Linked DNA regions of Homo sapiens: regions 1 and 3 are each linked to region 2. Evidence: fine-mapped expression QTL. A gene starts in region 2. Each other region holds a variant in brackets. All regions are shown on one strand. Distances are from middle to middle.

The links. PIP is the estimated chance that this variant, and not a neighbour inherited with it, causes the effect.
Region 1: its variant is fine-mapped to the expression of DNAAF5 in esophagus muscle (GTEx, PIP 0.98).
Region 3: its variant is fine-mapped to the expression of DNAAF5 in liver (GTEx, PIP 0.98). The same link has a PIP of 0.9 or more in breast.

What each region holds. Positions count from the first base shown.
Region 1 is chr7:1,669,349-1,677,522 of GRCh38, reverse strand. It overlaps ELFN1 (extracellular leucine rich repeat and fibronectin type III domain containing 1), which reads right to left and starts at 7,246. Exons shown (of 4, transcript NM_001128636.4): 1 at 7,169-7,246. RefSeq lists enhancers at 5,694-6,400, 6,401-7,107, 7,108-7,814, 7,815-8,174. The variant C/T (reference allele first, on the strand shown) is at 3,939.
Region 2 is chr7:722,296-730,469 of GRCh38, reverse strand. DNAAF5 (dynein axonemal assembly factor 5) reads right to left here and starts at 3,771. Exons shown (of 13, transcript NM_017802.4): 1 at 3,155-3,771; 2 at 623-807. The coding sequence starts at 3,749. It overlaps PRKAR1B (protein kinase cAMP-dependent type I regulatory subunit beta), which reads left to right and starts at 3,189. Exons shown (of 11, transcript NM_001164760.2): 1 at 3,189-3,260. RefSeq lists silencers at 2,909-2,988, 3,029-3,138, 3,199-3,248, 3,499-3,698.
Region 3 is chr7:787,923-796,096 of GRCh38, reverse strand. It overlaps LOC124901567 (a long non-coding RNA gene), which reads right to left and starts at 6,644. Exons shown (of 2, transcript XR_007060175.1): 1 at 6,574-6,644. The variant A/G (reference allele first, on the strand shown) is at 3,131.

The sequences.
Region 1 (8,174 bases), 950 kb before region 2:
CACACACCCCTGCACAGTCCTCTGTTCACACAAGTGGTAATCTACACGCACACACGTGAACATGCGTGCCTGCTCCCATATTCACTTGGACACCCATCTGCACCCAGAGCCACACGCAAATGAAGATCTGAGAATCCCGTCTCCTGGAGGAAGCCGGGGTGCCGGATACCTGAGGAATGGGCCCTGAGCCCCACTTCTGTGGGCACCCTGAGGGGTTCTGTGCCAAGATGACCCCACTGTTTCATACCAATCCATTCTGGGGGGTTCATCTCCCCAAGAACACAGCTCTGAAATGCTAATGGCTGTCAAAGGGAAGCAGGACTTGCTTCGCACAACCTTCCTCTCCACAGGACGGCCTCCCTCATTTCCTAATGAATATAAATAGGAAAATGGGTTTTGCCTTACAGAATATTTTTCTCTATAGGAATGTAGCTCCAATTTCTAAGCACTGTCAAAACAGAAGTTACATCCTCTCTGTCTCTCCGCTGCCAGCGTCGGCACCCAGTACGGGCTACCCTCATGGCTTTCAGACGTCGGCAGTCCCCTGGGTGGCTCATTCCCTCGTGTGCCCTTAAAAACCCTTTCTCCGTCGACATCAGAGGGATGCTTTAAAGCCAGCCTTGTCTCTCAGCTGCTGCAAACTCCCCAGAGACTTCCCGAAGCAATCCGAGTACCAACCAACTCTTCCCAAGAGCTCCGACACAGGAGCAGCCCGGACCCTGGGGCCTCTCCCGCTCACCTCTCAGCCCCCACGGCCAGCTGCACTGGCCTTGCCCTTCACCCACACGAAGCGTGTCTCGGCTGCGGGGCCATTACACCTGCTCTCCCTTCCCCAGCATCCTCCTTCCCTGTCTCTTTGCACAGCAGGGCACAGAGGGACGCAGGGACCGAACCTGCGCCCCATCCAGGTTCCAGGGCTGCAGGTCTGAGGGCCATGCAGGGCAAGTCAGAAGGGCGGGGGATTCTGCCAGCAGTGGCGGCTCTGCCCTTTCCAGAACTGGTGTCAGCCATTTACACTCCCCACAGCCATCCATCCACCCCCGTCCTCACATGACGGAGGAGAGGCCGAGGCTCCGGGAAGGGAAGGGACCCACCTCAGGTCACGCCGAACACCAGAGGCTCCCCAGCCCGGGCCACCCCATGATCTGCAGCCAAGCCCTTCCACCATTCCACAGGACAGATAGATGCAGGGGTGGTCCCTCAGTGAAGAGGGCAGAGGCCGGGCCCTTCCACAGCTTCCACGGGGCAAACAGACACAGGGGCAGTCTGTCAGTGAGGAGGGCAGAGGCCTCAGTGCAGGCTCCCCTCAGGCAGGGAGACAACAGACTGGGGGTTCCTCTCCAGGGTGCCCTGGAGCCACTACCAGCACCCTTTAGGCAGAGGTAGGCACTTGGCTAATGCCATCTCCCTTGGGATCTGGTCTAGGAACCAGCTGCCACCTTTCCAGACATGTCCGGGAAGCATCCCAGTCCCCCTCCCAGGCAGCCTCCCTCGGTCAGCACTCTGACCAGTGCGGGGGCCAGGCAGGAGCCACAGCACAGCCCAGAGTCCACGCCCAGGAGACACATCCTGAGGGTCCCCAGCCCCTTGGGCTTCTAGGGAGGCCGTGGAGGTCGAGATGGCAGTGAGGGAGCCAAGCGCTGGCCAACCCTTCATGCAGCCCTGGCGGGGCAGCTGTGCTGTGGGTATCTCCGGGACACCTTCCCAGCCACTACTTCGGGCTGTGTCTCGACAGCGCGGGACTGTGAAGGCACACAGCTGTCCTTGACTCGTCCCTCCGGGCCAGCGACGCCTCACTGTGTGCTCTGCAAAGCCCTCTCCCTGCAGGGCCTCCTGCGCACCGGCCGAGGGTCTGGGGAGCCCCCCGACGGCCCCCCCATTTCCAGACCCCGCTCCTCGGCCCCAGGAAGCCGGGCGGGATTCTCATCCATGTGGGGCGGGCACATGGCTGGCTGTGTTTGTATCTGTGTTTATTAAACTAGAGAGAGTTAATGACTAAGAGGTGCCTGAGTTTGATCCTGCTGAAAATAAGACTCGGATCTGTCGGTAAACACGGGGGAGCCTCCAGGCTGTCAATCATCTCCCGGGGTTTCCATCCCAGGAAGGATTCCGCCTGGACCCAACCCAACAGCCTCCAAATGTCAGGGCAGCAATGCCGGGGTGTGCACCTGTCACGTGGACAGACCCCCGCCCCCGAGCCCTCGGCCGCCACCTGGCCACATGTCCAGCGCTGGTGAGAAGCTCTCAGCGCGGTCAGCACTCTGTGACAAGCCCTCTGACAGAAGTTACCACTGGAGTGGGGCGGACAGCAGAGAGATGCGCTTCTGTGGGGTGGGGTCCTAGAGGGGGTAGTGGGCCACAGAGGGCCTGGGGGTGCACAGGGGTGGAATGTGGCTTCCCAGACAAGCTGGTTCACCTCCACGCCGTGGGCTGCCGGGTCCCCGTCGGTAAGGCCAGGGCACTCTCCCAGCTGAGCCCGGATATGAGGTGTGGGGAGCCCAGCATGGGAGCAGGGCTGAGCCCAGATACCACTGCCTGCAAGCCTCAGTGGCTTGCGGCCACTGCCCTGTCTGCGCCTCAGTGTCCCTATCTTTAAAATTCAGAGATTGAATTGGGGGCTCTAGCAAACACAGTGGACCTGGTGATGGCTGGGCTGGCCCGGGCCGAAGGATGTTTCCCGCCCGGCTGTGCCTCCTCTGTCCCCATCCCTCCCTCGGAAGCCCAGAGTGCAGTTTTCCAATATACCCCAGCCTCATGTGGGGGCACTGGGCACAACACACAGGGAGGCAAGGCCCTGTCCCTTCCACCAGTCTCTCCCACTGTGGCTGCCCGAGTCTGTCCTGGAACTGGCAGAGGAAGACATTAGGGCAGACGTCGAGGGCGGGGGGGTCACCGTCCACTGTCATGGCCCCTCTCCCCACCCCCCTCACTGCTCTGGGGGCCTCACACCTTCCCTTCCGCTGCCTCTCCTGCCTGGATGCCTGCCTCTTCCTGTGGGGTTATCTAAACTCTGCCCACCCTATAGGGGCCAGCTAGACCCCTCCTCCTCAGCCCCAAAGAGGAGCTTGGGTCCGGCTCACAGGCGAGGGGAGCCTGGAAGCCGTGAGTCCTGAGGAACTAACTGCTGGGCAGAAGGGAGGCAACCGGGGCTGAGTAACCGAGATCCTGAGACTCCAGGGTCTCCCACCACAGAACAGCCCCAGGAGTCCTAGCCATGTGGGTGGGGAAGAGCTGTGTGGACCAGCCTCCATGGCTCAGTTTCCCCACTGGCTCCTGTGCACCCCCATGGCCCGGAGCAGGGAGCGGAGGAGTGGTCCTCTCTGCCTCAGTTTCCCCACCGGCTCCTGGGCACCCCTCATGGCCCAGAGCAGGGAGCAGAGGAGTGGTCCTCTCTGCCTGACTCAGTTTCCCCACTGGCTCCTGTGCACCCCTCACGGCCCGGAGCAGGGAGCAGAGCAGTGGTCCTCGCCGCCTGACTCAGTTTCCCCACCAGCTCCTGTGTACCCCCGTGGCCTGGAGCAGGGAGCGGAGTAGTCGTCCTCTCTGCCTCCCCTCTGAAGGTCCCTCAAGCCCTGCTGGACCCCCTCCTGCCTCAGCCTGGGTTCCAGCTCTTCTCCAAGACCAAGACCCCAGCTGCCCCAGGACAGCTCTACAGGTGTGGAGGCCTGGTCCAGCCACAGCTCCAGCTTACTTGCTGTGTGACCTCGGGCGATGCTGGACCCTTCTGGAAAATGGACCGGCTGGACCATCTTCAGGGGCTGGACCGGCTGATCTCCGAGGGAAAGGAGGCACATTTATTTGTGAGACCATTGTCTTTCCATCTGGGGATGCCAGCTCCAAGGCAGCCAGGCTCCTCTGGGCTTTGTCCCAGGCTCCAGGTAGGGCACACAGTTGGCCCTTGTCTGCCATCAGCGCTCCCAGGGTGGTCTCTCACCTCC[C/T]GCCCTCCCTCCCCAGGAGGCTGGAAGAGGTGGGACAGAACCAGGTCTCAATCCACCAGCCTTGGGAAAGGGACATCCGGGGCAGGGGGCGGGGAGGGGGGGCACGGTGCTGGGCTCGAGTGCCCATAGCTGCCACCCTGCTTCCTGTTTACTGTCGGTGCCACTGACTGGCTCAGGGTGCACAGGGGTGAAGGGAGGCAGCAGCCCCCAACGACCAAGGCCTCCCACCCTGCTGGAATCCCCTGACCTGAACCAACACAACAGGACACAGACGCCAGACATAGGACCCCTCCACCACCCTCTCCGGCCCCACCCCAATCCGGGCCTCAGTCTCCCCATCTGTACAGCTGGTGCTGGAATGGATGGCGCCATCGTCCACTGCAGTGGCTCCACCACCAGCCACCCCCACAAACACCCACCCAAGGCCACTTGACACCTGAGCTTGTGCTGGAAGAAACCAAATCCACAACAAAAACAAAAAGGAAAGAGCGGGGGGGGGCGCTGGAGAGATGACAAATGTATCCAATGTCCGCGGCGGTGCCACCATCCGCTCCAGGTTCACGCCTGGAAATTTATGGCCTCATCACCCAGCCCTGGAGATCTATCTATCTCTCGCCTGTCACTCACTTGCATTTTTAATCCTGCCCCCCGCCCCGCCACCGGCCCCCTCGTGTATTTATGCACCACCCACCCGGGCATCTCGAGGGCCTGCCTGTTTCTTTCTTGTGAAGATATATGAACACCCCAAGTCCATGCACCTCTGCTCATAAATTTCCTCCAATGCGATGGTGTCTGAGTCTGGCACGGAGAAACACAGTCCCCTACCAAAATGGGGAATTGGCTTGTCGGGGGGGAAGGGATCCTGGGGTGGGGGCTCTGACCTCAGGGGGACCTTAGAAGGAGGCTTTCCTGAGTGCTTAGAAAATTCTATCAAAATCTAGAGCTGATGCGTGTGTGTTGGAAACAGATAGAGAAAGTCACCAACATGGGACCCAGGCAGCCACTCCGATTTTACCCCATTGATCTCAGGCACTGTGGTCATATTTTAGTCCCATTAATTTTTCTCTCCTGGAGAGCAGGTGAAGCCTACAAGTATACATTTAGGGTGAAAATATTCAAATGCCGGGGTCCGAGACAGGCAACTACTCCAGGCTCTGGCCCTGGGCGCTTGCTGGGACCCCGGACACCTGTTTCTTGGTGGGGACCGTGGTAGGGAGGTGGAGGAGCAGCAGCCTCTCCCTGGCCCAGGTGTGGGGAGCCTGCCTCCAAAGACACTTTGAAAAATCAGTGCTTTCCAGTGGCAGTCCTGGGGCATGGTGGGGAAGGGACGCCGCCCTCCCTCCCCTCCTCTGGTCCTGGGTGCAGGTGCCCACCACATCCCTGCACCCTTACCCCAGACTTACCAGGCCTCAGGAGTGTGGCTCTGGTTCAGGTGCCCACTGGCTTTTCTGGGAGTCGGGAGCTGCCTGCCGAGCCTGCTGTATCATCCTGAATTATACGCACACAGCAGTCCTGCTGCGGCCGAGGAGGAGGGGGCTGCACAGCTGGCTGTAGGACAGGGGGAGGGGCATGGCCCCCAATCTCTGACTTGGAGACCCCCAGGTCTTCTGCCCACTAGGGGTGGGGATCAGAACTCCCTGACCACCGTATGCCCAGGAAAATGAGGGACCCAAGTGCTGGGGTCCTGGCTGGGCTCCAAACCCCCTCAAATCCAGGTGAGGGGGTGACCCCCTCCCACACACGGCCCCCTGGAGTTTGTCCCCCTGCTTTGGTGGAGTGGGGCGCAAACCTGGGCTGGGACCTGTAAGCCAGTCTTCTCAATGCTTGTTCAATTAAAAGGTGGCAGGGGCAGGGACCCAGGGGGCAGGAGGCCAGGGGGCCAGCCAGGCAGAGAAGAGGAGCATGTTGATGCTTTTCAAGCAACCTATGCCCAACCCAATGGGGTTTCCCCCAAGGCTGGGTGCAAGCTGGACCTCTTTGGAGGCTGGGGGCCTCTCTAGGGGGCAGCCCCTGAGAGAGGCAATATGGGGAGATTTGCCATTTACATCTGCTCCTGGCTCCCGGTCCCTCCACAGCTTCTGTCCCCAGGCTCTCCGCACAGCCCTTAGCCCAATCGAGGGAATGAGCGGCAGAGGCAGCCAGCCCAAGCCAGGGTCCAAAGAGGCCCCACTCCGGGTGTGCAGGAAGGGAAAGTGCTGGCACGGAGGCTTTTTGAGGACGTGCACACCTGGCTCGGCCGGCCTCGACCCTTTCTGCTAAGCCTTCGTTTTTTTCAGAAGGCATGATCATCCTAGCCCCATTTCACAGGTGTGGAAACTGAGGCTCTGAGATTCACCTGCCCCAAGGTCACACAGCTGAGACCTGGAAAAGCCGGATTTTCATCTCAGAGGGTGTCGTTTTTATGGGGGGGGGGGCGGTGTGCGGTACGGCAGGCAGTGCCCCCCGCCCCACCCTCAGCATCAAGCAGGTGACCTGCAGGTTTCAAAGGATGGAAATGGGGGCGCTTGTCTTTAGAGGCAGGTTGGGGCACGGAGGCTTGGCAGCCTCCTCCCAGCCCCCAGAGGGACGAGGACGAGGATGGACTCCAGGTGGGGCGAGGGGTGGAAAGCACCCAGTAAGTTCAGTTCGGAGCGAAGCCCCCCACCCCACCCCCCCGCCAGTGGTTGGACTCAGGGGCTGGGACCGAGGAATGTGACCCCTCCCCGTGCGTGACTGGACGGTCCCCGCGCGGAGCGAGGAGGCTCGCAGCGTCGGGGGGAGGGCGGCCCAGCAGGGAGGGCGATGCGAGCCTGGGGAGGGGTCAGCGACTCGGCCAGGAGGTGAGGACAGCCCCCTAATTTCCGGGAAGGGAAGGGCAGGGGGCCGCGTCTGGGGGGCGCCGGGCAGGGTGCGGACGGCGAAGGGGGACGGAAGGGAGAGAGGCGCTGGGGAAGGGACCTCTCGGAGGCACGGGGCAGCGTGCGGGCTGCGGCAGCGACCCCGACCCGGGCCCCCGGGCTTTGTCGGGCTGAGCCTGCGCCCGCTCCGCCGCCGCCAAGTTCCTCCAACTTTGCCCGCTGCGCTCGGATCGCGCGCCAGGCCTGGGGGCGCAGCAGGGGCTGGGGGCGCACGCTGCGCACTCGGGGACGCCCGGGGTTCGAGGTGGCGGGGGGCTTGGCCGCGCCGCTCCCCGGGGGTGGTCCGGGTCCCAAGTCCCCCAGGTTCAGCGCCCGGCCGCGCTCGCCGCTTACCTGCCCGCCCGGCCTCGGTTCCGGGGCTGCGCCCGCAGCCGCCGCCGTCCTTCAAGCTCTAACTTCGCTCCCGGGATTGAAATTCCTCCCCAGCTTCGCCCATCGATCTGCGCGCGCGGCCCCGCCCCTCGCCGCGCGGCCGGGGGGGAATTCAAGCTCGCCCTGCCCCCTCCCGCCCCCCTTCCCTCCCTCCCTCCCTCCTTCTCTCCCTCCCTCGCTCCCTCGCCCGCCTGCGCGCTCCCTTCCACCCCCTCTTCCTCCGCCGCGAGTCCGGCTCGGAGCCTCTGGCCCTCCCCTTCTCTCCCTGGCCTCCCGAGCCCCCTGCTCTCCTCGGCTCCCCGCGGCAACCCGCTCCTTCCCTCTCCCGGCGACGCGCAGGGGCTGGGGAAGGAGGGGAGGTCCTAGAAAGCGCAGGGGGCGTCCTCGCGGTCCGTCCCCGGCCCTCCCCGCCCACATCTAAAAGGTGGAGGGGGTGGGTGGGTGGGTGGGGGGAGTGGGGGCGACAGCTGTTGGCTGAACAAGCTACCCGCGACTCCCACCACCTCAAGCAAAGCCAAGGCGTTCTCAGGTCCTCCCGTCGGTCCGCCCCTTATCCGGGAGGGCAGGGACCTAGGGGCGGAGAACGCAGGGCGCAGGCCGGGCCTCCTCTGCCCAGCCCTGGCCCCGCTTCCTTCCTTCATTCACCCCAACCTCTGTGAGGACTTCAGGGGGTTCTGGAGCACTCTTCGGCTCAGTTTCACCCTGACAACCTGCCTGTGCGGAAGCCCCCGTCCGCATGTTACAGGAAGGGAAACTGAGTCAAGAGAGGCCCAGAATCTGGCCCTACACAGCGCGTCGAAGGCAGAGCCCCAGGGGCAGCCTGGACCCCCGGCAGGAGCCTCGGGACTCCACGCTCGGGCCGGGCAGGCCCCGGCGGTGCCTGGACAAGCCCGCGTTCGCAGAACGGCCGGCGCCTGGGGACCCTCTCCAGTCCCCGCGCAGCCCGCGCGTCCCCGCCGGCGCCCCC
Region 2 (8,174 bases):
ACATGTCTGACTACGATGACAGGTAACTCAGAGACAGAAAGATCAGAGGTCACTCAGCTTCCCCGGTGGCCACAGTGTGTAGCATTTTAGCAAGTCACTGGGGCCTCAGATCCAAGACATGCCCTCCAGGCCAGATTCTGCCAGCAGTAAAGCCAACACTCAGCCCCATCTGTAGGACTCCTGCCTGCCTGCCTGCCCGTCTCTTGGTGGGTTCCAAAGCCCAACGACATAATTATCCCCAACAAACCAACCCCGACTCCACTCTTCTCCCAGTCCAGGTCCACCAACCATGGTGGCTTTTCGGGAAAGTGCGTCTTGATGGATGGGAGCACTAAGGAACCTTCTGCAACTGCTGAAGTGCACACTGTGCCTAAGAGACAATAACTACACAAGTCATCCTTTCTAACATCCTTGGAATTCATAACATCAAACATTAAAACAGTTCAGCTCTCTTCTAGTTTTTCCAAGATGTGAACAGGAACGTCCTGTGACTAGGAATAATGAAAGGACATTTGGTGCATACAGCACTCTGAAAAAAGAACAAGTGAGTTAGTTAAAAACAGCACGTCAGCCCGCCTGTGTTGGAGAGAGGAACAGACTGTCCAGGAGAAACACCAGTTACCTGCGGGACGTCATCAAACAGTCGCTGAGCAAAATGGGAAAGCACGTCGTCCACGGACTTCCCGTTGCCAAAATGGATCACTGCGCCTGTGGCTTCAATGGCGGCCACACGGACCTTCCAGTGCTGGTGGGAGATGGTCTGCATCAGGGGCCCGATCAGAGACTCCGACTGCATGTGGAAGTGGTCTGAGGGACAGGGAGGCCCCCAGTTACCAGAGCTGCTCCCACACGCCTCGCCCAGCTCTGTGGGCTTCCAGAGGACGGCTGCCTGCCTATGAGTTCCTCACCTCCCTTCCTCTCCTACGCCAGGTCCTTGCTGCATGAACAGTACACAATCCAGGCTGCCAAGGAGAGCTCTGTACCGCCCGGCACAGGAAGAGGCTCAGGGACAAGCGTCCCACCCTGATGACACCTGTGCAACCCAGAGGCTTAGGAGGACCAGCGGGGAAAGGCTGGGGGTGCAAACCCATTGTGGCTGAAGACCAGAGAGCCTGGACCTGCTGAAGCCAAGGTGGAGGCCTGACGGGGACACTGGCCAGAGGAAAGAAGCCGAGCCCAGAAGACAGAGGCGAGGCCACACTCCCAGCCCCACCTGAGACGAGACCCCAGGCTCCTCCAGGAAGCTGGGCCAGCACCACTCCAGGCAAAGCCACTGCACTTCCTATTTGTAAAGTCCCCGCAGAAAGTCAGAACAAGAGGTGGCAGGCGCCTGTAATCCCAGCTACTTGGGAGGCTGAGGCAGGAGAATCGCTTGAACTCAGGAGGCGGAGGTTGCAGTGAGCTGAGATCGCCCCACTGCACTCCAGCCTGGGAGACAGAGTGAAACCCTGTCTCAAAAAAAAAAAAAAAAAAAGTCAGAACCAAAGGGTCTCTGGCATCCAGGCCGCCTCTTGCCTCAGCTCTGCACTACTTGGGGCCCGTCTGGGAAACGGCTATTCCAGTGAGACTTTGGGTGAGCGCCTCAACCTCTCTGCCGTTGCCCAGTGTGACCGAGACCAGAGGTGAGGCCCCCCACCCAGGGGAGAGGAAGGCCAGAGGTGCTGGAGATGAGGGGATGCTCCAGGCAGAGGCACAGTCCCTCACCCCACAGCAACCAGTGAGCACATACCCCAGCAGGCTGCGCTTGGGGCTGGGGCACAGATGGGCACAGTGCTGTCCTGTGGAACCTACGGTCCAGGGAGGGAGCTCGTGGGGCTGATGTACAGACTGGGTAGGGAAGTGGTTGAGGATGAAGAAGAAATACATTAAATGCCAGGAATTCTCAATGGCCATGTCCATCCAGCCCAAGGTTCTTCCCCAAGCTCCACAGGAGTTCTGGACCATGTGAAATCCAAAGTTAACCAACGTGGAAATCTCGGCATTTCCCCAAGTCCAGCTCTTCCTCTACTTCTGGAATCTATTCTCCACGCAGCTGCAGTGATCTTTTAACAACCTGAACTCGGGTCTATCACTTCTATTGACACCCCCTGCACTTCCCACTACATTCAGACCATCACTGGGACATCACTGGGACGGCCTGAGCTGGCCAGATCCCTCACTGCTTTCCTGCTCCCTACCGCCCACGGATTTATAGCATCAGTGTTCCCTCCTTCGGAAAGCCTTCCCGCCAGCAGGAAGCAGGCGCCTGCTATCATTCCACATCCCAGCCAGGGGAGGGAAAGGGCAAGACCCTGCAGGAATGGCCAGCTAAGGAAAGGGAACGACCGGATCAGATCAGAGCTCTAAAAAAGATGGGGAACGTTATAAAGTGGAGGGGAGAAGCGGCCTCCTTCCACTTAGGACAGTGGTCCAAGCCAGAGCGGAAAGGCAGGGGAGTAGGATGAATGGGACAGAAAGTGAAATGACCAGAGCAGAGTCTCAAAGCGCGTGCCCTCAACCAGGTGCAAGTCCTGCAAGCCCCCGAGGGAAGGAAAGGGGGCAGCTATCAGGGCACACCCCACCCCAAACCGCCTAACAGGAATTTCTGCGGTGGTTTCCAGGTATCTGGACAGAAGCGCTGGCTCGTGGGCCCGGGTGGGGTGGAGGGGGCTCAGGCAGGGAGGAGGGTGGGAGGTGAGGGTCGCGGGAGGGCGGCGTGCAAGGAGGAGGATGGCACAGGATAGGCAGGTGGAGGGGGCACAGGGAGCAGGCAGGTGGGGGGCGGGGCTTGGGGCGTGGAGGGTGGAGGCGGGGAGCAAGGGGACAGGGGAGTGAGGTGAGTGAGGGCCAAGCAGGAACAGGGGTCACGGGGCAAGGAGCACGTGGCAGCGCAGGAAACAGGTACATGGGGGTAGAGGACAAGGGAGCAGCTGAAGGGCGCGTTGGTGGCGGGACGTGAGGCAGGGGAAGCAGTGGTGGTGGGAGGAGGGGGCCGGGCGGGGTGCTTTGGGGCAGGCGGGTGGGGGAAGCGGCGCATGGGGGGTCCGGGATGTTGGGGGGTGCGGGCGTGGAGGGGGGCGGGGCCGAGCCGCGGGGGTTGTGAGAGGGGCCGCGGAGGTGGAGGTGGGGGTGAGAGTGTGGGGTGGCGTGTGGGAGCGGGGCCCGGGGTGCTCACCGGGCGTGGCCTGCGCCAGGGCGGCGGCGCAGCTGCAGCTCTCGCGGCGCACGGCGGCGAAGGGGTCGAGCAGGGAGCAGCGCAGCGCGCGCAGAGCGTCGTCCAGGTGGGGCGCGAGCGCGGCGCCGCACAGGTCCACGGCCAGGCCCAGCAGCTGCACAAGCGCCAGGCGCAGCTCCTCACAGGCCTCGGGCGGGCGGCGCGCGGGCACGGGGCCGGCCAAGCGCGCGGCGAGCGCGGGCAGCAGGCGCGGCAGGGCATCGCGGGGCCGCGCGGCGCGGCGCAGGCCCAGATCCAGCAGGTGCACTGCCAGCGCGCGGCAGCCCTCGGCGGGGTCGCTCAGGCAGCGCAGCAAGCGCGGCAGCAGTAGGCGCGCCCAGGGGCCCTGGAAAGCGGTGGGGTCGGCGGCAGGGCCTGGCTCCTCCAGCGCGCGCCGCAGGGCCTCCAAGGCGCGCCGCCGGCCCGGCTTGCTGTCGGCCTCCAGCCCCGGCAGCAGGCGGCTCAGGGCGCGGCTCAGCTCCACCGCCTCAGCCGTCTCGGCCCCCTCAGCCGGGTGTGGGGCCGCCACGGCCTCCGCCACCCCCAGCGCCGCCATCTTGCCCGCGTCGCCGGTCACTAAGGGGAACAGCGCTTTCGCGACTCTCAGCGCAGATTACGGCAGCACTTCCGGTCCGCGCTGCGGGCGGGGCGCCGGGCTACTTCCTCCCCGCCGGTGCGCACGTGGGCCTGTGCTCTTGTCGTGCTCGCCCGCTGTCCCCCTCTGTCGCCGGAACCCCCGCCAGCCTGCCTGCTGGGCCTTGTCCTGTCCCCATTGTACAGATGGGGAAGGTCTCGGGAGGGTGCAGCTCGCCCGGGATGCGGGTCCCGGGCTATAGGCCTGGGCCTGCCCCTAGGGAAGCCTGCCCTGCAGCCTAGGGGGCTTGGAGAAGGAACCTGAGTGGTCCCGCCTGGGACCAGGGTAGCCGGGAAGCCCCTGTTTGAGCCGCCTAGAGCCCCTCTGGCTTTGGGAAGGTCCGTTCCAGGAGGGAAGGACGCTGGTTCTGTGGACTGGATCCCCCTGTGGTGTAAGACAGGTGCCTGGTCTGGGCTTCACGTGCAGCCTGTCATTAGATCTCAGGCGTAGCCGCCCAATAGGTTCGCCTTACTCGCTGCCCAGGTAGAGCCAATTTATCAAGACAGGGGAATTGCAATAGAGAGTTTAATGCATGCAGAAACTGGCTGCATGCAGAAACTGGCTGCATGCAGAAACTGGCTAAAGGACACTGGAGCTTTATTGCTCAAACCAGGTTCTGAAAATCCTGAGATGGGTCATCTAAGGATAATTAGGCAGGTAGGGGGCCAGGGAGAGGGCAGTGCTTATTGGTCGGGTTGGAGATGAAACCATGGAGAGTCAAAGTTGATTCTCTTGCTGTCTTCTGTTCCTGGGTGGGATCACAGAACTGGTTGAGCCAGATTAGTGGTGTGGGTGGTGGCACCTGGTGCATCAGAATGCAGAGCCTGAAAAATATCTTGAGCACCAATCTTAGAGTTGATGATAGTGGTGTTATCCTAAGGAGCAACTGGGGAGGTTTGGAATCTTGTGGCCTCTAGCTGCATGACTCAAACCACAATTTCTAATCTTGTGGCTCATGTGTTAGTCTTACAAAAGCATTCTGGTCCCCAGGCAAGAAGGAGGTTGGCTTCAGGAAAGGGCTGTTATCATCTTTGTTTCAAAGTTAAACTATAAACTAAGTTCCTCCTAAAGTTAGCTTGGCCTACTCCCAAGAAATAACAAGGCAGCTTGGAAATTAAAAGCAAGACAGTGTTTCACAGTAGTGACCTTGACTGTGGACTTGAGTGGAGACAGAGGCGCCTAAACAGCTTGGAGTCGGAGTTGCTGTGAGCCCAGCCTAGAACGCGAGTTTGACAGCACTCACTGCAAACCAGGAGTCCCCAAGTCTGGTTAGCCAGGCACTTCTCATCTGTGACCATGCACTGAGTTTTCTAAAGGCAGAATGTGTGTAATTTTAGGACAGAACTTCAAGTTTGACCTTCTTTTTTGTTGTTGATCTTCGTGTTGCAAAATGGTGGTGTTTGTCGGTACGTCTTTTTTTTTTTTTTTTGAGATGGAATCTTGCTCTGTCGCCCAGCCTGGAGTGCAGTGGCGCGATCTCCGCTCACTGCAGACTCTGCCTCCCAGGTTCATGCCATTCTCCTGCCTCAGCCTCCCAAGTAGCTGGGACTGCAGGTGCCCACGACCACGCCCAGCTAATTTTTTGTATTTTTAGTAGAGACGGGGTTTCACTGTGTTAGCCAGGATGGTCTCGATGTCCTGACCTCGTGATCCGCCCGCCTCAGCCTCCCAGAGTGCTGGGATTACAGGCGTGAGCCACCACGCCCGGCCCATCAGTACTTCTGAAAAGTTGTTATGTAGCATATTCAGTAACCTTCATTCATTGTTTCCTCCAACAGGCATTTGTTTGACCAGGCACTGTCTGCAACATGTGGGACAGGATGACAATGATGTAGAAACTGGCCATGGTCCCTGCTCTCCCAGATCTTAGGGTCTTGCAGGATGAGATAGCCCTTAATGGAAGGATAAATTAGTATGTGTTTAACCGTGGTGGTCCTGAGAGAATGAGTGTCAAGGGATGTTGAACTAGACTTTTAAGGCTTCCCTGAACAAATGGTAGCAGAGGTGAAATATGAAGAATAAGTAAACACAGTGTATTAGTCCATTTTCACGCTGCTAATAAAGACATGGCCGAGACTGGGTAACTTATACAGGGAAAGGTTTACTGGACTCACAGTTCCACATGGCTGGGGAGGCCTCACAATGATGGCCGAAGGCGGGAAGGAGCAAGTCACATCTTACATGATGGCAGCAGGCAAAGAGAAAATGAGAGAGCCTGTGCAGGGAAACTCCCCCTTATAAAACCGTCAGATCTCGTGAGACTTATTCACCATCATAGGAACAGCACAGGAAAGACCTGCCCCCATTATTCAGTTACCTCCCACTGGGTCCTTCCCACAACACGTGGGAATTGTGGGAGCTACAATTCAAGATGAGATTTGGGTGGGGACACAGCCAAACCATGTCACATAGCCAGGTGAAAGGGCGGAGGTGGGAGACGGGGAGTGTTGGAGAGAGAGGAAATAGCATGAGCAAAGGCCTCATGGGAGTGTTACGGGCTGAATGGCGTCTCCCCAAAATTCATATGCTGAAGTCCTAACCCCCATAGTTCAGGAAGTGATCCTGTTTGGAGACAAGGTCTTTGCAGACGTGATTGAGGTGAGATGAGGTCATGAGGTTGGGCACTCATCCAATATGACTGCTGTCCTCATAAAAGGAGAAATTTTGGAGATAGACGTGCATACAGGGAGAATGCAGTATGAGCATGAAGAGAGACCTCAAGAGGAGCCAGCCCGTACCCTGATCTTGAGAAATCAAATTTGTTTCATTCAGCTGCCCAGCCTGGTGTGCTTTGTTACGGCAGCCTCAGGTAGCAAACAGGGAGGGAGGCTGACCCTGGTCACAGGGGAGCAGGCAGGGAGTGAGCAGATGGGTGGGGCCAGGCCATGGGGGCCTCTGTCCTAAAACATGGCAGACTGAGGATTTCAAGGTGGGAGCATTGGCAAGATCGAGTCTGCATTTTTCAAGGACCCCTTTGGCTTCCGTTGAACGGATTGGTCGGGAGCCCTGGGAAGGCTGTGGCAGTGAGTGCTGAAGACGAGAAAGAATAAGCGCTTGAATTACGGTGGTGGGACTTCACTTTTCCTTGCTCCTCCCATTGAAATACAACAAAATACCCTGCACATAGCAGGCGACGAGGAAAGGAGCTTGAGAGTTGACAGACGGGCTGGAGACCTCTGGACTGGAGGAATAGCAAGGTGGTGGGTCCCCTGGGTTTTCTTTTTCTCTCATGTGTTCCTGCACTAGTCCCCAGGGAAGCCTGTGGCCCAGAACAGCCAACAGGCACAGACAGAAATTCTCCAAGGAAAGCCTCCTCTCTCTGGCCAAAGCCCTGGGAAAGGGGACGCCCAACAGAGACCTAGAGGGTAGCTGCCACCTTCACCCCACAGTCTGCTTTCAGGGCCGATTTTAAAGCTGCTGCAGGTGCATTAACCTGTGCTGTGCAACTGGGGTTCGAGTGGACAGTCTGCACTGCACAGGTAGTGTCAGAGGAGCCTGAAATCTGCCCTTCCTCTCTTAGCACAAAGAGACCCAGAACGAGCATGTTCTGTCCTGACACAGCAAAAGGTAGCCCAGTGACACCAGGCGGCCCAGGGAGGTACCTTTCACCCCTGCAGGCAGCACCCATGGGAAATGAGCAGCAGTCCCAGGAGAGCCAGAAGAATAAAGCAGACGAGGAGGGCAGTGCCAGGGCTCTGAAGACGAAACTGCTGTTGGAATGACAGACCACAAAAACAGGCTGCAATCTACACCCTGGACCTGAACAGAGCAACTGCCTGGTGGAATAGAGTAGGACAAGGAGTCTGCAAACATCGTAACCCAAATGTCCAGGATACATCTGGAGATCACTTGTCATACCAAGAACAAGGAAAGCCACAACCTGAACATGGTAAGGTAACGGATGTAAATTCCAAGATAGGTCACATGTTGGAATCATCTGCCAAGAATTTTAAAGCAGAGTCATAAGAACCAGCTGGGCGCGGTGGCTCACGCCTGTCATCCCAGCACTTTGTGAGGCCAAGGCGGGCAGATCACCTGAGGTCAGGAGTTTGAAACCAGCCTGGACAACATGGTGAAACCCCATCTCTACTAAAAATACAAAAATTAGCCAGGCGCGGTGGCTCACGCCTGTCATCCCAGCACTTTGTGAGGCCAAGGCAGGCAGATCACCTGTGGTCAGGAGTTTGAAACCAGCCTGGATAACATGGTGAAACCCCATCTCTACTAAAAATAGAAAAATTAGCCAGGTGCAGTGGCTTACGCCTGTCATCCCAGCACTTTGTGAGGCCGAGGCGGGCAGATCACCTGAGGTCAGGAGTTTGAAACCAGCCTGGACAACATGGTGAA
Region 3 (8,174 bases), 66 kb before region 2:
TAAATACTGAAGGCCTAAAAGTCTTTTTTTTTTTTTTTTTTTTTCGGAGACAGAGTCTCACTCTGTCACCCAGGCTGCAGTGCAGTGGCGCGATCTCGGCTCACTGCAACCTCCACCTCCTGGGTTCAAGCGATTCTCCTGCCTCAGCCTCCCGAGTAGCTGGGACTACAGGTGCCCGCCACCACGCCCAGCTAATTTTTTTCTATTTTTAGTAGAGATGGGGTTTCACCATGTAGGTCAGGATGGTCTCGATCTCTTGACCTCGTGATCCACCCGCCTCGGCCTCCCAAAGTGCTGGGATTACAGGCGTGAGCCACCGCGCCCGGCCATGAATTTACCTAAATATTGGAGTAGTGTGCGCTGTGAGTCCGTGTGTGATGGGATCCCACTGCCTCACTGGACATTGTCTGAATTGACTTTCACTTAGAGCATGTTTATAAAGGGTAATTAAAATGTGCTAATCGGAAGCTGTATTAAAACTCACTGGCGATTGCAGCAACTGTTCAGCTTAGAATTTAGAGCAACAAAAGGTTTTTTTTAGGCGAGTGTTTTCTCACTGATATTGTACAGAAGGGTGACGCATGGTGTTAATAAAAGGCAGCGGGACTTTTAATTGGTGATGACTGTTTCTCAGTTCCCAGCACTCCCAGGCCTCTCGGGTCCTGCCAGCATGAGGCAGAGGGCGACGAGCCCACCCCTCAGGTGCGCCCACCCCTCAGGTGCACCCACCCCTCAGGCTGGCTCTGTGGGAGACCCCACCCTTGTCCTCTGCAGATTAGACAGACTCTGTGGGTGTGGACCCTGCCCTGCCCAGGTCCAGGTTAGATTCTGCGGGTGTGGACCCTCCCAGGCTCTGGTCCAGGTTAGAGTCTGCGGGTGTGGACCCTTCCCCTGCCCGGGTCCAGGTTAGAGTCCCTGGGTTTAGGCCCTGCCCCAGTCCAGGTTAGATTCTGTGGGTGTGGATGGACCCTGCCCTGCCTGGGTCCAGGTTAGAGTCCGCGGGTGCGGACCCCGCCCTGCCCGGGTCCAGGTTACAGTCCGCGGGTGCGGACCCCGCCCTGCCCGGGTCCAGGTTACAGTCCAAGGGTGTGGACCCCGCCCTGCCCGGGTCCAGGTTACAGTCCGCGGGTGTGGACCCTGCCCTGCCCAGGTCCAGGTTACAGTCCGCGGGTGTGGACCCCACCTGGGTCCAGGTTACAGTCTGTGGGTGTGGACCCCGCCCTGCCCGGGTCCAGGTTACAGTCTGTGGGTGTGGACCCTGCCCTGGCAGCGCAGGCGGCTGGCGCTGTGCTTGTCCCGGGCCACGCCTCTGGAGGCCTTTGCGTGATGGTGCCACCCTCTGGGCTCCTCCTGCCCCCGGACCTGGATCCCTGCGGGGAACCCTTCCGCATCCCACATCTCTGTCCTGCATCCCGGGATGGAGCCCACAGGGACCCCAGGAAAAGGCCCCGTAAAGGATTGGGGGCTCAGAGACATCCCCTGGACCCGGATCCCTGCACTGCAGACTGGGCAACAGAGCAAGACTCTCGTCTCCAGAAAAAAAAAAAAAAGGAAAAGAAAAAAGAAAAGAAAACAAAATATAAGGAAACTAACGTAAGGATGACAGTGCCAGCAATGAGCTAGGAAGAGAACATGGAGACGCCTAATAATAGATTCTTCTGTCTACAGTTACCTTGTTGTCAGCCAAGAGTGAGCACTGCCTTGTCTCCTAAGTGACACTTTCCAAGACATTAAGAGAAGCGTTGAGTAAATGCCTAAACACAAATGAGCAGGTGCTTTTCCCCTTGGGGCAGGTTCTAGGCCTCAGGGTCCAGGCCAGCTCCTGGAGCCATCATTTGCTTGTAAGAAGAGTCACAGGAGAGCGGCACAGACCCTTGGGTACAACATCAAGGACATGCCGAGGTCAAAGGAAGAAGGCGGAGAGGGTGAGGCCTGCGTGGAGGCTGCAGCCTCCTCTCTGTGAAAGGCACTGCCTGAGACCTCTTAAAATGCTTTTAAAAGGCTGGGCGCGGTGGCTCACGCCTGTAATGCCAGCATTTTGGGAGGCCCAGGTGGGTGAATCATTTGAGGTCAGGAGTTTGAGACCAGCCTGGCCAATGTGGTGAAACCCCATCTCTACTAAAAATACAAAAATCATTTGGGCATGGTGGTGGGCGCCTGTAGCCCTAGCTACTTGGGAGGCTGAGGCAGGAGAATCACTTGAACCCAGGAGGGAGAGGTTGCAGTGAGCTGAGATTGCAGCACTGCCCTCCAGCCTGGGTGACAGAGCGAGACTCCGTCTCAAAACAACAACAAACCATGGTATTCATAGCCCACCAGCCTGAGTAACATCCAGGGATTGTTTCTCTCTCTGACATCAGATGGACAATGCTATTTATAGAATTCTGGGCTGGGCACGGTGGCTCATGCCTGTAATCCCAGCACGTTGGGAGGCCAAGGCGGGTGGATCACGAGGTCAGGAGTTCGAGACCAGCCTGACCAACATGGTGAAACTCCATCTCTACTAAACAAACAAACAAAAAATACAAAAATTAGCCAGGTGTGGTGGCATGCGCCTGTAATCCCAGCTACTCAGGAGGCTGAGGCAGGAGAATTGCTCGAACCCAGGAGGTGGAGGTAGCGGTGAGCCGAGATCGCACCACTGCACTCCAGCTTGGGTGACAGAGCGAGACTCTGTCTCAAAAAAAAAAAAGAAAAAAAATAGAATTCTGGAAAATGGGGAGAAGTCAGGAGAAATATTCTATCGCTGTAAGAACGTGGGGTACAGTGCAGTTTCGTTACATGCATAGATTGCATTCTGGATACTGGTCAAGTCAGGGCTGTTGGGGATCCATCGCCCGAATATCATATGTTGTACCCACTAAGTCATTTTACATCATCCACTCCCTTTTCTCCCTTCACCCTTCTGAGTCTCCACTGTCTATCATTCTCTATGTCCACGTGTTCACATTTTCTAGCACCCACTCATGAGTCAAAATATGTGGTATTTGACTTTCTGCACCTGGCTTGTTTCACTAAGATCATGGCCTCCAGTTCCATCTATGTTGCTGCAAAAGTCAGGATCTCGTTCTTTTTTTTGAGACGGAGTCTGGCTCTGTCACCCAGGCTGGAGTGCAGTGGCACGATCTCC[A/G]CTCACTGCAAGCTCCGCCTCCCGGGTTCACGCCATTCTCCTGCCTCAGCCTCCCAAGTAGCTGGGACTACAGGCGCCCGCCACCACGCCCGGCTAATTTTTTTTTTGTATTTTTAGTAGAGACGGGGTTTCACCGTGTTAGCCAGGATGGTCTCTATCTCCTGACCTTGTGATCTGCCCGCCTCGGCCTCCCAAAGTGCTGGGATTACAGGCGTGAGCCACTGCGCCCGGCTGGTGTTTTATTTTTTTGTAGCTATTATAAGTGTGATTGCCTTGATTTCTTTGTCAACTAGATCATTATTAACGGACAGAAATACTACTGATCTGTGTATGTTGATTTTGTATTCTGCAGCTTAACTGCATTCATCCCATCTAAGAGCTTTTTGGAAGGTTTTCTAGATATATGATCATATCATCAGCAAATGGGGATAATTTGACTTATTTTCCAATTTAGATGCCTTTTATTTCTTTCTCTTGCCTGATTGCTCTGGCTAGGATGAAAGATTTATCTTTAAAGAAAATTTAACTAAGTTCTCAGGCTAGTGAGGAGACACCTGGTAGTGGAAAATCAAGTGCTCAGTAAAAGGGACACCGCCCGGCCTGCTCCCACCTGGAGAAGAGCCTCCAAGAGCACTCAGGCTGAGCCTGTGTCTTCCATGCTTAGCCAGGTGACTGTTTTTGAAGTGTGATTTTTTCATTATAAAAACTCATGCAGAATTCACACATACACAAGTAGAGAGAATAATATAATAAACATAAAGAGCCTCCATATAGTCATCATTGATTCGGTGATTTAAAAAGGAGTAGGCTGGGCACAGCGGCTCATGCCTGTCCTCCCAGCACTTTGGGAGGCTGAGTTAGGAGGTTCGTTTCAGCCGGAGAGTTCGAGACCAGTCTGGGCAACATAGTGAGAACTCGTCTCTACTAAAAATAAAAAATTAGCTGGGGGTGGTGGTGTGCATCTGTAGTCCCAGTTACTCCGGAGGCTGAGGCGGGAGGATCGCTTGAGCTTGGGAGGCTGGGGCTGCAGTGAGCTGTGAGGGCACCCTTGTGCTCCAGCCTGGGTGACAGAGTGAGACCCTGGCTCAGAGGAAAAAAGAAAGGACTATAGAACAGCTTTGCCTGTTCTCGAGTTCCATATAAATTATATGAGATACAGTCTTTCCTCACTGGCCTGGTGTCTGTGGGAGCTGTCTCCGTTGCAGTGTGCCCTGTCGTTCGACTACAGAATCGTATTCTGTTGTCTGGATAGACTGTAGTTTGTTTATACTGCAGATGGACTGTTGATGGACATTTGGGTTTTTTCCAATTTGAGGCTAGAATAAAGCTGCTATGAGCACTTGGCTACAAGTCTCTGCATTTTCATTTCTCAATAAGACAAGTTTTGTTTGTTTGCTTTGAGATGGGGTCTTGTTCTGTCACCCAGGCTGGAGTGCCATGATGCCATCAAGACCCACTGCAGCCTCCACTTTCAGGTTCAAGCAATCCTCCTGCCTCAGCCTCCCAAAGTGTTGCGATTACAGCCGTGGGCCACCACACCCTGCCCAAGACAACTTTCTGATAAAGCTTTTGCTTTGACATCCTGAACACCCTTCCCTGGGACAGGGGTTCGTGATACAGAAGAAACAAGTGTGCTGACTTGTGAGCCGAGAACAGCATCAGGTGTCAGTGAGGCTTCGATTACAGGTTAGTCTCAGCAGAGTTGTTTTTGACTGGGTAATAAATACGTGCACTAAAAGTAAATTCCATGGTACCGAGAGGAGTAAATTCCATGGAACCGAGAGGAGTAAATTCCATGGTACCAAGAGGTAAAGACTGGACTCTCACTCCAGTCCCTGGGGCACTCAGGTCCCTTCTCCAGAGGCCTCACTGTTCAACTGGTTTCTTTTGTCCCCTCCAGAAATTTTTTATGCCTAAGCAAAAGAAGCAGCTCCCTTTTTTTTTTTTCTTCAGACGGAGTCTCACTTTGTCGCCCAGGCTGGAGTGCAGTGGCAAGATCTCGGCTCACCACAACCTCCACCTCCCAGGTTCAAGCAATTCTCCTGCCTCAGCCTCCCGAGTAGCTGGGATTACAGGTATGCGCCACCACACCCAGCTAATTTTTGTAGTTTTAGTAGAGACGGGGTTTCACTATGTTGGCCAGGCTGGTCTCGAACTGCTGACCTCGTGATCTGCCCGCCTCGGCCTCACAAAGTGCTGGGATTTCAGGCGTGAACCACCGCACCCAGCCTGTGCTCCTTGTTTTTTAAAATTAACAATGTGTTTTGGAGATCATCCCATACTGATATAGAAGGCTGTCTTTGGCTACAAAAAGGTGAGTGTTTTTTCTTCAACCAACCAGCTCCCACCCTCCAGTAACCTCAGCTCTTCATTTAGGTCACAGAAAGGGGATTACAAAGGGAAGTAGAAATTGCCTTTGAATCACAGTGTAGGTAAGAACAAATAGATGAGTTGTTTTTATTTATTTTTTTGAGACAGAGTCTCACTCTGTCACCCAGGCTGGAGTGCAGTGGCGTGATCTCAGCTCACTGTAACGTCCGTCTCCTGGGTTCAAGCAATTCTCTCACCTCAGCTTACTGAGTAGCTTTGATACAAGCGCCCACCACCAGCCCCGGCTAATTTTTGTATTTTCAGTATAGATGAGGTTTCACTATCTTGGCCAGGCTGGTCTTGAACTCCTGACCTCAAGTGATCCACCAGCCTTTGGCTTCCCAAAGTGCTGGGATTACAGGCATAAGCAACCGTGCCTGGCCTATGACAAGAGCTTTTTGTTTGTTTGTTTGAGATGGGGTCTCGCACGATTGCCCAGGTTGGAGTGCAGTGGTGCAATCGTAGCTCACTACAGCCTCAACATCCTAGGCCCAGGAGATCCTCCCGCCTCTGCCTCCCGAGTAGCTGGAATTACAGGTATGCACCAACATGCCAGGTTAGTTTTTTTTTTTTTTTTTTCTGGAGAGACAGGGTCTCCTTATGATTCCCAAGCTGGGCTCAAGCGACCCTCCCACCTTGGCCTCCCAAAGTGCTGGGATTACAGGCGTGAGCCACTGTGCCTGGCAACAACAGCTTTTTGAGCTTCAGGAACTGAAGACTTTGTGTCCTTGGGTTAGGCAAAGATTTCCTAGATACAACACCAAAAGCACAATCCATTAAAAAAGAAATTGATAAATTAGACTTCATTCAAAATAAAAAGCTTATCTTCTTCAAACGACATTGTTAAAATAATGAAAAGACAAGCTATGGAATGAGAGAAAATATTTGCAAATCATAGATATATGATAAAGGACTTGTACCTAGAATATATGAAGAATTCTCAATATTCAGGAAGAACACAACCCAGTTTTGTCTAAATGGGCAAGATATTTGTATTAGTCCGTTCTCACATTGCCATAAAGAACTACCTGAGACTGGCTTGTTTATGAAGAAAAGAGGTTTAATTGACTCACAGTTCTCCATGGGTGGGGAGGCCTCAGGAAACTTCCAATCATGGCAGAAGGTGAAGGGGAACCAGGCACATCTTCACATGGCGACGGGAGAGAGAAGGCACACTTTTAAACAACCAGATCTCATAAGAACTCACTATCATGAGAACAGCAAGGGAGAAATCCATCCCCATGATCCAATCACCTCCCACCAGGTCCTTCCCTCAACACTGGGAATTATAGTTCAACATGAGATTTGGGTGGGGACACTCAGCCAAACCATGTCAATATTTAAAAAGACTCTTCACCAAAAAAGATACACAGATGGCAAATAAGCATATGAAAAGATGCTCAGCCTCATTAGACATTAGGGAAATGCAAACTAAAACCATAATGAGATACAACTATGTACCTATTAAAATGGCTAAAATTAAAAACTGATTAGCTAGTGTTGGCAAATATGGGAGGAACTGGAATTCTTGCACAGGGCTGGTGGAAATGGTCCCGCCACTCTGGAAAATAGAATGGTAGTTTCTTAAAAATTTAGTATACATCCACCATGACTGCCATTCTACTAGATGTTTATCCAAGAGAAATGAAAGTACCTATCCATACAAAGACATGTACACAAATGTTGGAAGAAGCTTTATTTGTAATAGCCAAAACCTGGAAAGACCTCAAACACACGTCAAAAGCTGAGTGGGTGAACACACTGTGGCTTATCTATAGAATGGAATATTACGCAGCAGCAAAAAGGAATGAACTATTGATGGACACCCCAACATAGATGGACATCAAAACTGATGAGTGAAAGAGGCAAGACAAAAAAAGTACATGTTGTATTAATGCACTCATTTATGATTTACAAAATTTTTTTTTTAAACAAGGTCTCACTTGTTTAAAAAAAGTGAGTGCAATCTTGGGTAACTGCAGCTTCGATTTCTCAGGCTCGGGTGATTCTTCCATCTCAGACTCCTGAGTAGCTCAGACTGCAGGTGTGCGCCACCATGCCCACTCATTTTTAAAATTTTTTTGTAGAGACGGGGTTTCCCAATGCTGTCCAGGCTGGTCTTGAATTCCTGGCCTCAAGAGATCTGCCCGCCTTGGCCTCCCAAAGTGCTGGGATTACAGGCATGGGCCACCAACACGCCCGGCTCATTTTAAAAATTTTTGGTAGAGATGGGGTCTCCCTCTGTTCCCCAGGCTGGTCTCGAACTCCTGGGCTCAAGTGATCCTCTCCACTCAGCATCCCAAAGTGCTGGATTTTACAGGCATGAACCACCACACCCGGCCTATCAACATTTCAAAGAATTAAGTGGAGAGGGACGTAATGCCTCTTGGGTGTCTGTGAACCCTTGTAGGCTGGGTTTCCGTCTTTCTCTGAACACACGCACCTGTGGACGTGCCAGGTCCCTGGGAGCTCCCTTTACAGATGTGTAGAGACGGAGCGGCAGCGCTGATGTCTCTTCCCATGCTGTGGCCCCAGCATGCAGGGCGAGGGACGGCCCAGGGGTTGGTGCACTTGCGTCCGAGGGGTCGAGGGGCCCCTCACACGTGTGTCCTCTCGGGCAAGCTCCCTGCCATTCATTTCTGGGTCTTGTGACAGAGACAGACGACGGAGCCTC